Linked DNA regions of Homo sapiens: all the other regions are reported to be linked to region 2. Evidence: microRNA targets listed by miRTarBase, many of them from high-throughput screens and not tested one by one. Region 2 holds a microRNA gene; each other region holds the end of a gene's coding sequence.
Evidence for each region. The annotated mature microRNA hsa-miR-4438 reads CACAGGCUUAGAAAAGACAGU and lies in region 2 at 1,604-1,624, opposite strand. An mRNA with a match to its seed (bases 2 to 7 or 8) in the 3' UTR can be bound and repressed. Matches are read on the target gene's strand: a 7mer-m8 pairs with bases 2 to 8, a 7mer-A1 pairs with bases 2 to 7 and ends in A, and an 8mer does both.

Region 1: miRTarBase lists RAB42 as a target of hsa-miR-4438. Seed matches in the 3' UTR shown: 7mer-A1 at 563-569 and 7mer-A1 at 698-704.
Region 3: miRTarBase lists TTC38 as a target of hsa-miR-4438. Seed matches in the 3' UTR shown: 7mer-m8 at 699-705.

The regions. Positions count from the first base shown.
Region 1 is chr1:28,593,751-28,597,839 of GRCh38, forward strand. It overlaps RAB42 (RAB42, member RAS oncogene family), which reads left to right. Exons shown (of 2, transcript NM_001193532.3): 2 at 1-1,699. The coding sequence ends at 367. Among named protein-coding and RNA genes, the nearest start is that of RAB42, 3.5 kb to the left of the region's middle. RefSeq lists an enhancer at 1-243.
Region 2 is chr2:213,755,526-213,759,745 of GRCh38, reverse strand. It overlaps MIR4438 (microRNA 4438), which reads right to left and starts at 1,679; the gene lies at 1,587-1,679. The region is part of intron 10 of SPAG16 (sperm associated antigen 16); the gene reads right to left.
Region 3 is chr22:46,292,281-46,296,369 of GRCh38, forward strand. It overlaps TTC38 (tetratricopeptide repeat domain 38), which reads left to right. Exons shown (of 14, transcript NM_017931.4): 14 at 511-1,728. The coding sequence ends at 604. It overlaps GTSE1-DT (GTSE1 divergent transcript), which reads right to left. Exons shown (of 1, transcript NR_024009.1): 1 at 2,863-4,089. Among named protein-coding and RNA genes, the nearest start is that of GTSE1-DT, 2.3 kb to the right of the region's middle.

The DNA.
Region 1 (4,089 bases), not on the chromosome of region 2:
GACAAACAGGAAGTCCTTTGAACACATCCAAGACTGGCACCAGGAGGTCATGGCCACTCAGGGCCCGGACAAGGTCATCTTCCTGCTGGTTGGCCACAAGAGTGACCTGCAGAGCACCCGCTGTGTCTCAGCCCAGGAGGCCGAGGAGCTAGCTGCCTCCCTGGGCATGGCCTTCGTGGAGACCTCGGTTAAAAACAACTGCAATGTGGACCTGGCCTTTGACACCCTCGCTGATGCTATCCAGCAGGCCCTGCAGCAGGGGGACATCAAGCTAGAAGAGGGCTGGGGGGGTGTCCGGCTCATCCACAAGACCCAAATCCCCAGGTCCCCCAGCAGGAAGCAGCACTCAGGCCCATGCCAGTGTTGACTCTAGGAGAGAAAGGGTTAAAGCAGTCCCAGCCTTAGCCCACCTGGTGGGATGGGGAGTGTTAATATCTCTCTGGAGGACAAATGACAGAAGGGTTCATATAAACAGTATCCTGACACAGTCATGCTTCCTGGATTTTGGAGTCGAGGCTTTCTACAGAAAAGAAAGTTCTGATGGCCAGGCATGGTGGCTCACGCCTGTAATCCTAGCATTTTTGGAGGCCAAGGACAGTGGATCACCTGAGGTCAGGGGTTCGAGACCAGCCTGGCCAACATGGTGAAACCCTGTCTCTACTAAAAATACAAAAATTAGCCAGGCGTGGTGGTGCATGCCTGTAATCCCAGTTACTCCAGAGGCTAAGGCAGGAGAATTGCTTGAACCTGGGAGGCAGAGATTGCAGTGAGCCAAGACTGCGCCACTGCACTCCAGCCTGGGCAACAGAGTGAGACTCTGTTTCAAAAAAAAAAAAGAAAAGAAAAGAAAGGCCTGAGAGACCAGATGTGCAACTTCCTGTCCTTGAGCCTCAGTGTCCCTATCTATCGATGGGGCTCATAAAAGATCCCACCTTGAAGGGAGGTGGTGACCACAAATGAGACAGTGGACAGGATGTGCTCACCCAGAGCCTGCCGCGCTGTGAATTGAATGACAAAAGCTCTCATTCCCACTCCCTTTTTCTTGGCTGCGATGTGGCCACTCTGGCAGCATTCCTGGGCTCAGACACTGAGAAGCCAGCGTCAGGAAGCTGATGCATGGGCAAAGGCAGGTGCGGGGAATTCCAGGGGGAGCTTGGCTTGGAGGCTTCTTATGTCCTCAGGCTAAAATGATTCTGGGCATGGGATTAATATGTGACGTCAAACCCAGGGTTGCTGGCCAATGCCCCCCCGACCAGGCCCAGGGGCTGAAAAATGGATGTTGGAGGCTGGGATGAACATGAATGTGTAGCAACTATGTTGGGCACACAGTGGCCACTGTGATGAGCCACCAAGATCCCCCTTTCTGGCTGGGGAACCCATCAACCCTCTCCCCAGCTGCTGGAGTGCCACTGGATGATGGACTTCAGCTTGCCCCACTCTCTGGGAAAGGCCCTCCCTTCAGGGCAGCTTGTATCCAAAGTTCATCTCCTGGGGGGCCTTAAAGGACTCCCTCTTGCCCCAGCTCTGGACAACTCTGAAAGTCAAAACCAACTTTATCAGTCTCTGTGGGCTTCATTGAGGACACTGTTGTGACATCATAGCCAAGTTATCCCCTTGCCCAATCCTGCTTCCTTTTCTTCCCCAAACAGGTATCCATTTCAAGAATATCCCCTAATAAACATCTGCACACTCATCTCCATCTCAGAATCTGCCTCCTGGTAACCTAACCTATGATGGGAACTGCTAGGCAGGGAATGTCCTGGGAGCAATTAGGGAAGGCTTCATGGAAGAGACACTGTTTATGTTAGGCCGAATCTCAGCAGGTGTAGGGCTTAGTGGGTATCATTGTGCTGTAGCAAAAAGCACAGCCACTTTGCTGGGTGCAGTGGCTCACGCCTGTAATCCCAGCACTTTCGGAGGCCTAGGCAGGCAGTTCACTTGAGGTTGGGAGTTCGAGACCAGTATGGCCAACACGGCGAAACCCTGTCTATACTAAAAATACAAAAATTAGCTGGGTGTGGTGGCTCATGCCTGTAATCCCAGCACTTAGGAGGCTGAAGCATGAGAATTGCTTGAGCCCAGGAGGCAGAGGTTGCAGCGAGCCACGATCCCGCCACTGCACTCCAGCCCTCTAACTTGGGTGGCAGAGCAACACTCCGTCTCATAAAAAAAGAAAAAAGCATAGTCACTTAACTCTCTTTTGTGACCTTGAGCTAGTTACTTGGCCTCCTTGAGCCTTGGTTTCCTCCTCAGTCAGTAACATGAGACTGATAATCCCTCCCTCCTAGGGTTCTTAGAAGGTTTTCAGAATGAGTTTCTTAGCTTCCTCCCCATGGAGAGGGGGCTGAGGGGTCTTCCTGTGCACTTGGTCCTGCCTCTTTTTTTTTTTAAACCCATAAAAATTCACCTGTTTTATTTTGTGGGGGGTGGGGAATATCCATTACCTCAGACATTTATATTTTATTTGTATTACAAACAATCCAGTTATACGTTTTTATTTCTAAATGTACAATAAATTACTGTTGACTGTAGTCACCCTGTTGTGCTATCAAATGTTAAATCTTATTCATTCTATTTAACTGCATTTTTGGCTGGATGTGGTGGCTCACGCCTGTAATCCCAGCACTCTGAGTGCCGAGGTGGGCGGATCACCTGAAGTCAGGAGTTCGAGACCAGCCTGGCCAACATTGGTGAAACCCTGTCTCTACTAAAAACACAAAAATTAGCTGGACATGGTGGCATGTACCTGTAATCCCAGCTACCGCGGAGTCTGAGGCAGGAGAATCACTGGAACCTGGGAGGCAGAGGCTGCAGCGAGCTGACACCGTGCCACCGCACTCCAGCCTGGGCGATAGAGCGAGACTCCATCTCAAAAAACAAATAAATAAAAATAAAATAAAAATAAAAACTATGTTTTTGTACTCATTAGCCATACCCACTTCCCCCCACCACTACCCTTCCCAGCCTCTGGTCACCATCATTCTACTCTATCTCCATGAGTTCAATTGTTTTAATTGTTAGCTCCCATAAGTAAGTGAGAATGTAAAAAGTTTGTCTTTCTGTGCCTGGCTTTTTTCACTTATAATTCCAGTTCCATCCATGTTGTTGCACATGACCTGCCTCTTCTTTTTAAACATCCTTATTCATCCTTGTGACGTGGTGAGGTTGGCACAATCATCCCCATTTCACAGATAAGAAAGCTGGGGCCAGGAGAGGAAAATTACTTGCTTTAGGGTATCTTTTCATTCCTTCATCGTTTTTTTTTTTTTTTCCTTAGATACAGGGTCTCGCTCTGTTGCCCAGGCTGGAGTGCAGTGATGCAATCACACCTCACTGCAATGTCGACCTCCTGGGCTCAAGTGATCCTCCCACCTCAGCTTCCCAAGTAGCTGGGACTACAGGTGCACTTCACAAAGCTAACTTTTAAATTATTTGCAGAGACAGGGTCTCACTATGTTGCCCAGGCTGGTCTCACACTCCTGGCCTCAATCAATCCTCCTGCCTCAGCCTCCCAAAGTGCTGGGATTACAGGTGTGAGCCACTGTACCTGGTCTCCTTCATCAATTTTCTTTCTTTTTTTTTGAGACAGAGTCTTGCTCTGTCGCCCAGGCTGGAGTGCAGTGGGGCGATTTCGTCTCACTGCAATCTCTGCCTCCTGGGTTCAAACGATTCTCCTGCCTCAGCCTCCCAAGAAGCTGGGACTACAGGTGTGTGTCACCACACCAGGCTAACTTTTGTATTTTCAGTGTTTCACCATGTTGGCCAGGCTGGTCTCGAACTCCCGAACTGAGGTACTCTGCCTGCCTCGGCCTCCCAAAGTGCTGGGATTACAGGCATGAGCCACCGTGCCTGGTCCGTCAGAGGCTTATTATTATTACTTTGAGGTGGAGTCTTGCTCTGTCACCCAGGCTGGAGTGCAGTGGCGCAATCTCGGCTCACTGCAACCTCTGCCTCCTGGGTTCAAGCGATTCTCCTGCCTCAACCTCCTGAGTAGCTGGGACTACAGGCGCACGCCACCACGCCCAGATAATTTTTTGTATTTTTAGTAGAGATGGGGTTTCACCATGTTAGCCAGGATGGTCTCGATCT
Region 2 (4,220 bases):
ATTCGTTATAGCTTATAGATGTTTCCCTACATTTCCTGCATTACTATCTTTTATATTTAGTTGTCTATTTTATTTTCTTTAGTGATTTGCTTAAATTTCTTTCTCATTTCCTTGTATATAGCTATTTTCTTGGTGGTTACCATAGGGATTATATTTTAGATCCTGCATATATAACATTCTAATTTAAATTTGTACCACCATAACTGCAATAATATATAAAAACTCGGCTCCTTCAAAAGCTCCATTCCCCCACCCTCTCAATTTTTGATGTCACAAAATTATATCTTTATGTATTATACAAAAATATAAACATGTAAGTATTTTAAATTCATTAGTCTCTTAAATTATGTACAAAACAAAATTGGAGTTACAAAGCATAATATGAACTTTTATACAAATTTAAATATATATATATTAACCTCTTAAAGCATGTAGAACACGAAAAGTGCAGTTAAAAAGTATTGTTACAATAATATAAGCTTTTATAATTTTCTATGTATTTTCCTTTATTAAGATCTTTATTTCTTTACACAACTTCAAGTTACTGTCTAGTGTCTTCTCATTTCACTCTGCAGGAGGATTTCTTGCAAGTCAGGTCCAATGGTAACAAGCTCTCCCAACTGTTGTTTTCCTGGGGATGTCTTAATTTCGCCCTCACTTTAAGGACAGTTTGGCTGGATATAAGATTCTTGTTTGATAATGTTTTCTGTTTTTGTTTTTCTTTAGCACTTCGAATGTCAGCCCACTGCCTTCTGGCCTGCAACGTTTCTGGTGAGAAATATACTGATAATCTTACTGATTATTCCTTATAAGTAATATATTGATGTTTTTCTGCTGCTTTTAAGATTCTATCTTTGTCTCCACCTTTTAAAGCTTTGATTATAATGTATTTCAGTTTATGTCTTTTTGAGTTCATCTTCCTTGAATTCTGTTGGATTTCTTGAATGTTTATATTAATGTCTTTTATCAGATTTGGAAAGGTTCTATCCGTTGTTTCTTCAAGTTTTCTCTTCTCTTTCTCCTCTCCTCCTGTGACTCCTTGATTGTGTCACACAGGTCCCTTAGACTCTGTTTACTTTTTTCAATTCTTTTTCCTTCTGTTCCTTGATTTCCATTGTCCTATCTTCAAGTTTACTGACTGTTTCCTTTGCTTGCTCAAATCTTCCTTTGAATCGCTCTAGTAAATTTTTTATTTAAGTTGTTGTACTTTTCAGCTCCCAATTTTTTTTAACTTCTTGTGAGGTTTCCTATCCATTGAATTTTTTTCATTTTGTTCATATATCATTTTCTTGACTTTCTCTATATCTTCCTGTAGTTCTTTGATCATTTAACACAATTATTTTAAAGTCCCTCTGTAGCAGATCCACCATCAAGTCATTTTAGGGATTTCATATTTTCCTTTGGACAAGACATAGTTTCTTAATTTTTTGTATGAATTGTGATTTTGGATCTAATAACATAGTAACTCTAAAAATTAGATTCTCCCTCTTACTGAGAGTTTGCGGTTACTTCAGTCAATGATTTTGCTTTTTATATTGTCATAAGAGGATTCTGTTGTAGGCTATCTCTGTGCCAAGAATCAGTCTGAAGTGTAAACTTAAAGACTGTCTTTTCTAAGCCTGTGCCAAAGGAAAGGCAAGGCACAGGCTTAGAAAAGACAGTCCTTAAGTTTACACTTAGTAACTTAGTCATTTTCTGATTGTCACCATATGTGCAGTTACTTTGAATGCCCTACTTTTTAATGTCTAGCTGTCAAAGGGGGAAAAACAGAAAAATAAAGTAGGAGAAGGGCACTGGCCCTTTTAATCTTCTGGAAGTCACTTCAGCCAGCAGGGAGGGGCTTGCAATAATGGATAGAGGTGCAACAATAACCACTCACCTCTTTGCGTCCATCTTTGTGACCAGAAACAGCAATCAGCAATCAGAGCAAAGATTGCCGATATTTGGATGACAGGTCCTTTTTTTGCCCACTCTGGTTCCTGCATGCTCTGTGCAGACTGCTCCAGTAACATGTGCACAGCTGCCTGCTACAGGGGTGACTGTGGGAAATGGGTAGCTACTACTGTGGTTAAGTGCTGAAATTGACTGAAATTAATCATAATTCGCCATGCAAGCTTTCCCCTAGAAGTTGCAAGCCTTTAGTAGATGTCAAAAATCCAAAATAGTTATATATCAGACAGATTCTGCCAGTACAATTGTTCTCTAGGTGGGAAGACAGATTCCTGGTGCTTCCTACTCCACCATATTTCTATAACTATTTCTCCATAATGTTTTAACTACTGTAATTTTGTAATATCCTTTGAAGTCAGGAAGTGCAGGACCTCCAGCTTGTTCTTTAGATTGTTTGGGCTCTTTTTGGTTCTCTGCGGTTGCATATGAATTTTAGAATTGCTTTTTCTATTTCAGAAAAAAAAAACAGCTATGGGTATTTTGATATGGATGGTATTTAACCTGTGGATAGCTTTAAGTAGTATGGACAACAATATTAAGTCATCTAATTCATGAATATATATGTCTATTTATTACCATCTTTATTTTCTTTAGAAATGTTTGTAGTTTTCAGAGAACAAGTCTTTAGTCTCCTGTTAAGTTTATATTTCTATGTATTTTTGATGCTATTTTAACCCAATTTTTAAAAATTTCCGTTTCAGATTTATGTTAGTATATGAAATCACAACTGATATTTGCATATTGATTTTGTGTCCTGCAACTTTGCTGAATACATTTATTAATTCTAGTAAGCTTTTTTATGTGGAATATTTAGGATTTTTTACATTCCATTTCTTTATTCCCTCTTTGCTCTATAAAGACAACACCATAAGGGTTTCATATGCTAAACATTCAAAAACACTTCTTTAAAAAAGCTATCTACTATCAACTGCCTCAAAGCCATCATTGAGATATTAGCTGAATATAACAGTTATTACATCATTTAATTTCAGTGTCAAAGCTTTACTTTCTTCATATAAAAAAAAACTATTTGAGTGTCTTTTTAAATAAATACACATGCATACCCACACATATCCTAGGCCGTTAAATTTTAATTGGCCTGGTATACATTAGCCATTTAGGGGGTTCCCGCTCCCAGAGATCCCATATTAACATGTTTGGAAAAGTCTGGTATTTGCATCTTTGTAATGCAGTGGCTATAGACAAGCAAAAGTTAAAGTCTACAGCTACAAATCCAAACCTATGGTACACCAAAGATGTATAAGCAAAGGCCTTGCTCAATTAGTCTAAAGATTTATCTGGGCATAGATTTTTATTTTCTGTCACCTAGGCTGGAGTGCAGTGGTGTGATCTCAGCTCACTGCATGCAACCTCTGCCTCCTAGGTTCAAGCAATTCTCCTGCCTCAGCCTTCCGAATAGCTGGGACTACAGGAGGATGCCACCACACCTGGCTAATTTTTATTTATTTATTTATTTTTTTGAGACGGGGTTTTACCACGTTGGCCAGGCTGGTCTTGAACTCCTGACCTCAGGTGATCCACCTGCCTCGGCCTCCCAAAGTGCTAGGATTACATGCATGAGCCATCGTGCCTGGCCCATAGACTTTTTTCTTTTTTTTAACACCTATTGGATTGCTAAAATTACTTATGTTTAAATATTTTAACTCCTCTGTGGAAGGACACTACTTTGATTTGTTATGTTCACTCTGACTGATATCTGAGGCTGGCCTCAGGGGTCTGCAGATCTAGTCCTACTCAGCCATTTAAGTAGCTGCATAATCTTGGGAAGATTTTTAAACTATTTCATTAGATAGGGATTTTCATATATAGGTATATAGATATTGATATATTTAGATGGTTAAATGCAGCCACAGGGACTGCAAATATTCTTTTCTACTATTTTATAATATTTTATCATATATGTCTGAATAATTTGGTCACAGAACTTTATTTTCTTGAGTTATTACAGATTCCTCTCTATTAGTTACATATCTCATGCAGTGCTCTTGGGTATATCTTTCTAATATCTACTAAAGTCCACTGCCTATCATCTTCACTGTGACAGCTATCATCTCAGTCATCATTATCATCAGCTTGAAATTTCTGTTTGCTTTTTAACTTTCTATCTTCTCCATTAGAATCTATGCTCTACAAAAGCAAACCCTGTCCTTGTTACGATTCTATTCCTTGTGCCTAGGACAGTACATGAAACACATTAAAATGAAATGATAAAAAAGAGTAGTTTATCTTTCACAAAAAAAGTGCAATGT
Region 3 (4,089 bases), not on the chromosome of region 2:
TCAAGGAATCTTCCTGCCTCATCCTTCCATCGTGCAGGGATTACAGGGGTGAGCCACCACACCTATCTCTTCTTATAAGGGCACTAATCCCATTCACAAGGGCCCCACCCTCATGACTTAATCACCTCCAAGAGGCCCTGTTCTTAATACCATCACCTTGGGCATTTGGGCTTCAACATATACATTTAGCCTGGACACAGACATTCAGTCCACAGCAGGGTCTTTACCTCAAACCGTACCTGGGTCTTCTCTCTTCAAACCTGGGTTTTCCCCACTGCCACCTGTTGTGCCCCATCTCGGGTGTGGCTTCCTGCACTGGAGGTCTGTGCCCTCCCATCCTCACCTCTCCCCAAACTGAGGCCAGGCCTCCTGCCCCTGGGCCTTGGCCCTTGCTGTTCCCTCAGTGCCGCAGTCTAGCCTGCCTGTGTTCTGCCTTGGGACCAAGGGACCACCAGGCCCCACATCCCTCTAGAAGGTTCTGTAACAGGACCTCTGTGTCTGTTTCCACAGGAGCCTTCTGATGGAGCGTGATGCCTTGAAGCCCAACTCGCCCCTGACCGAGCGGCTCATCCGCAAGGCAGCTACCGTCCACCTCATGCAGTGAGCCAGCCTGGCCGCCTCCACCCTGCAGAACCTCAGTGGTGGCGTCACTGCGTCCAGTCAGCTGCTCCACCGGGTTAGGGTCAGGAGACGGCCAGAGCCTGTTTGTTAGGGCTGTTAGAGGGTGATCTTCAGTTTTACAGGAAGTGGGTCACGGGTTAATTTTAAATGTGATTCCGAATCTCCTTTCAGTCCTCGAGAAGGGCCAATGAGCATTTTTCAGCAGTCACAGCCAGTGTGAGTGCTGCTCTTTCCACCTGCCTTGCAAATTCTGTTTCCCAGGGGAATGTGTCTACTGCCTGGTGGTTCAAAGGTTGGAAGGCAGGGCAGAGGTGGGGGCTGATTCTGCTGGGACAGGTCTTCCAGAGGCAGCCTCCCCCCACTGCCTGTCCCCGTCCCCACCAGGCTGCCCTTGGGATGGACCTTTTCATTCTTTTCTTTATATTCTAGACAGTCTCTGTTGTCTCATTGTGTTGCTGTCCCATTTTTCAGGTGAGGGTACCGGGGTAGGGGAGTGGCCTGCCCAGGGTCACACTATGAGAGGCCCCCACCTGCTGCCTTTGGACGCAGCCCCCTGCTGCTGCATCCACCACCCTTCTTACAGATCAGCGCGCACATGGGGTCCTTCTGCTGTCTCTGGGGCGAGTCTTGGAGCCCCCTGGGGGGCTCTGTTGGTGCTGATTTGGACCCGTTTCTCTTTTTAAACTGCACATCATAACAGGGCTTCATGTCGAGCATGATTTTAATCATAAATGCACTTCTGAGGTGCAAGGATTGAGCTCAGAGCTGCTCTGTTGTGGCAAAACCCAAAGTGCTGTGATGTGTGGCTGTGACAAGCCTGGAGCGGGTCCTGTGAGCGCCGCCTCTGTCTCCTGCTTCCCCACTGAACGCCTGCTGAATGTGCCGCTGACTCAGCTGTGCTGCTTTCAGCCCTCCTGTGAGGGGCGGTCCCAGTGCACAGATGTTTTTCAAGTTCCTCAGTTTGTACTGAAATTAGGGATTCATCAGGGCAGGAAGCAGGCAGGCCTCTCAGAAGGGAGAGGAGGCCTCCAAATCTATTGAGTCCCCACAGTTTGCTCAAGCCCAGGCAAATTTCTGTGATTAAAATGAATTCATCAGTTCCTCCAAGTCTTTGAGCATCTGTGGTGCAGGCCTGGGGCTGGGTCCTGGGGAGATGGCTTCTCCTTGAACTTAAGGTAGGTGGGGCAGGCCAGGCGCAGTGGCTCACGCCTGTAATCCCACCACTTTGGGAGGCTGAGGTGGGTGGATCCCCTGATGTCAGGAGTTCGAGATCAGCCTGGCCAACATGGTGAAACCCTGTGTCTACTGAAAATACAAAAATTAGCTGAGCATGGTGGCACACGTCTGTAATCCCAGCTACTCGGGAGGCTGAGGCAGGAGAATCACTTGAACCTGGGAGGCAGTGATTGCAGTGAGCCAAGATCGTGCCATTGCACTGCAGTCTGGGCAACAGAGCGAGACTCCCATCTCAAGGGAAAAAAAAAAAAAAGTAGGTGGGGCATCTAGTCAAGAAAATGGGAGGTCGGGCGCAGTGGCTCACGTCTGTAATCCCAGCACTTTGGGAGGCTGAGGCAGGTAGATCACGAGGTCAGGAGATCAAGACCATCCTGGCTAACACGGTGAAACCCCATCTCTATTAAAAATACAAAAAATTAGCCGGGCATGGTGGTGGGCGCCTGTAGTCCCAGCTACTCGGGAGGCTGAGGCAGGAGAATGGCGTGAACCCGGGAGGCAGAGCTTGCAGTGAGCGGAGATCGCGCCACTGCACTCCAGCCTGGGCGACAAAGCAAGACTCCGTCTCAAAAAAAAAAAAAAAGAAAGAAAGAAAAGGGGTAATTATAGTAGTATTTCCAGAGAGGCGCCTTCTCTACCCAAGAACTAGGGACACATCCTAAGGGGAGCCTCCTTCCCCTCTCCTGGTTCCAAGCAAGAAGACATGACTTGGCTGTGCAATTGGGAACCCTGGTCCCTCCTCCAGGAAGCCTTCTACCCGCCAACCCCCACTGCAGGCTGGTGAGGGTGCTGCCTCTGTGCCCCTCAGCCCTTGGCACTTGCCCTTGCTCTTGCACCCCTGCCATGACCTCTCCAGGTCAGGGACAGCATCTGTCCCCAGCATCACCTGGCACATGGCCTGCACTGAGTAGCTGTCAGTGAAAGTTGGTGAATGAAGGCATAAATAAATGAAGTCAAACTCTGTATTAGGCCTTCTTGCATTGCTATGAAGAAATACCTGACGCTAGGTAATTTATAAAGAGGTTTAATTGGCTCACAGTTCTGCAGGCTTTTCAGGAAGTATGGTGCTGGCATCTGCTTCTGGTGCAACCTCAGGAAGCTTAAGATCATGACATAAGGTGATGGGGAGCCAGTATATCACATAGTGAGAGCAGGAGTAAGAGAGAAGGGGAGGTCTTAGACTCTTAAATAACCAGATCTTGTGTGAACTAAGCAAGAACTCATCACCAAGGGGATGGTGCTGAACCATTCATAAGGGATCTGCCCTCACGACCCAATTACTTCCCACCAGGCCCCACTTCCAACATTGGGATCACATTTCAACATGAGATTTTGAGGGGACACACATCCAAACTACAGCAAATCCTATTGGGGGCAGAAATGAATCTGCCATACATAGGCCACACCTACTATGTGCTGACATGATACAGGGAGAGGAGTATCAGGAATGACTGTTGGGGATCCCTCTGCCATTCTCCCATGAGCAGACATCCCCAGGATGAGCTGAGGGGAATGCAATGAGCAGGCCAAACTCTTTCCAAGCTGTTTGACCACACCCACCTACCCCAGCACTCTCAGCCCCTGCCTGGTGCCCTGTGCTGAGCTGGGTGAGGCTGGGGAGACTGGTGAGTGAGGGCTGCCCTGCCCTTTTTGAGCCCCCAGTCTTCTGGTGAAGGAACATAGCAACATGGAGTGATTGGTATGGATGATGCAAAACCAGGGACATGGGACCCAGAAGTGCCCGAGCCAGCCTGGAAGGCCTCTGCCCTGGGCCCCGGGTGGCTGTTTGCTGCACAGCTCTCCCCACAGCCTGCCCCAAATAAACAGCTTATCTTCGTCCCTGAAAATGGTGCTCTCGAGTTCCATCCTTTTCAGAGCGGGTCCTCCCAGACTCCTCTTCCTGCATCCTCCTCCATCCCGCTTAGTGACACTTTGCCGTGGGTGGAGCCCCTCATTTGATCCTCAAGCCCCCGAGGTGGGTATTATACCTCGTTCGCAGGCAAAGGCTCAAGCGAGGTCAGTCTTAAGTTGCTGCCCACTGACCCGTCTACCAGTCCTGTCCTTGCGTCTCCATGGCTCAGGTCAGGGTTATCCTATCTGCTTCCCACCTCTCTCCAACACATGCACTCCCCAAGGCAGGCTCCATCACCGGGCCCCAGCCCCTGGCTCTCTCCTCCAACGCAGCTCCCCAGCCGGCCTGTAAAACCGAGGACAGGCTCCCGCCACGCCCTCGGC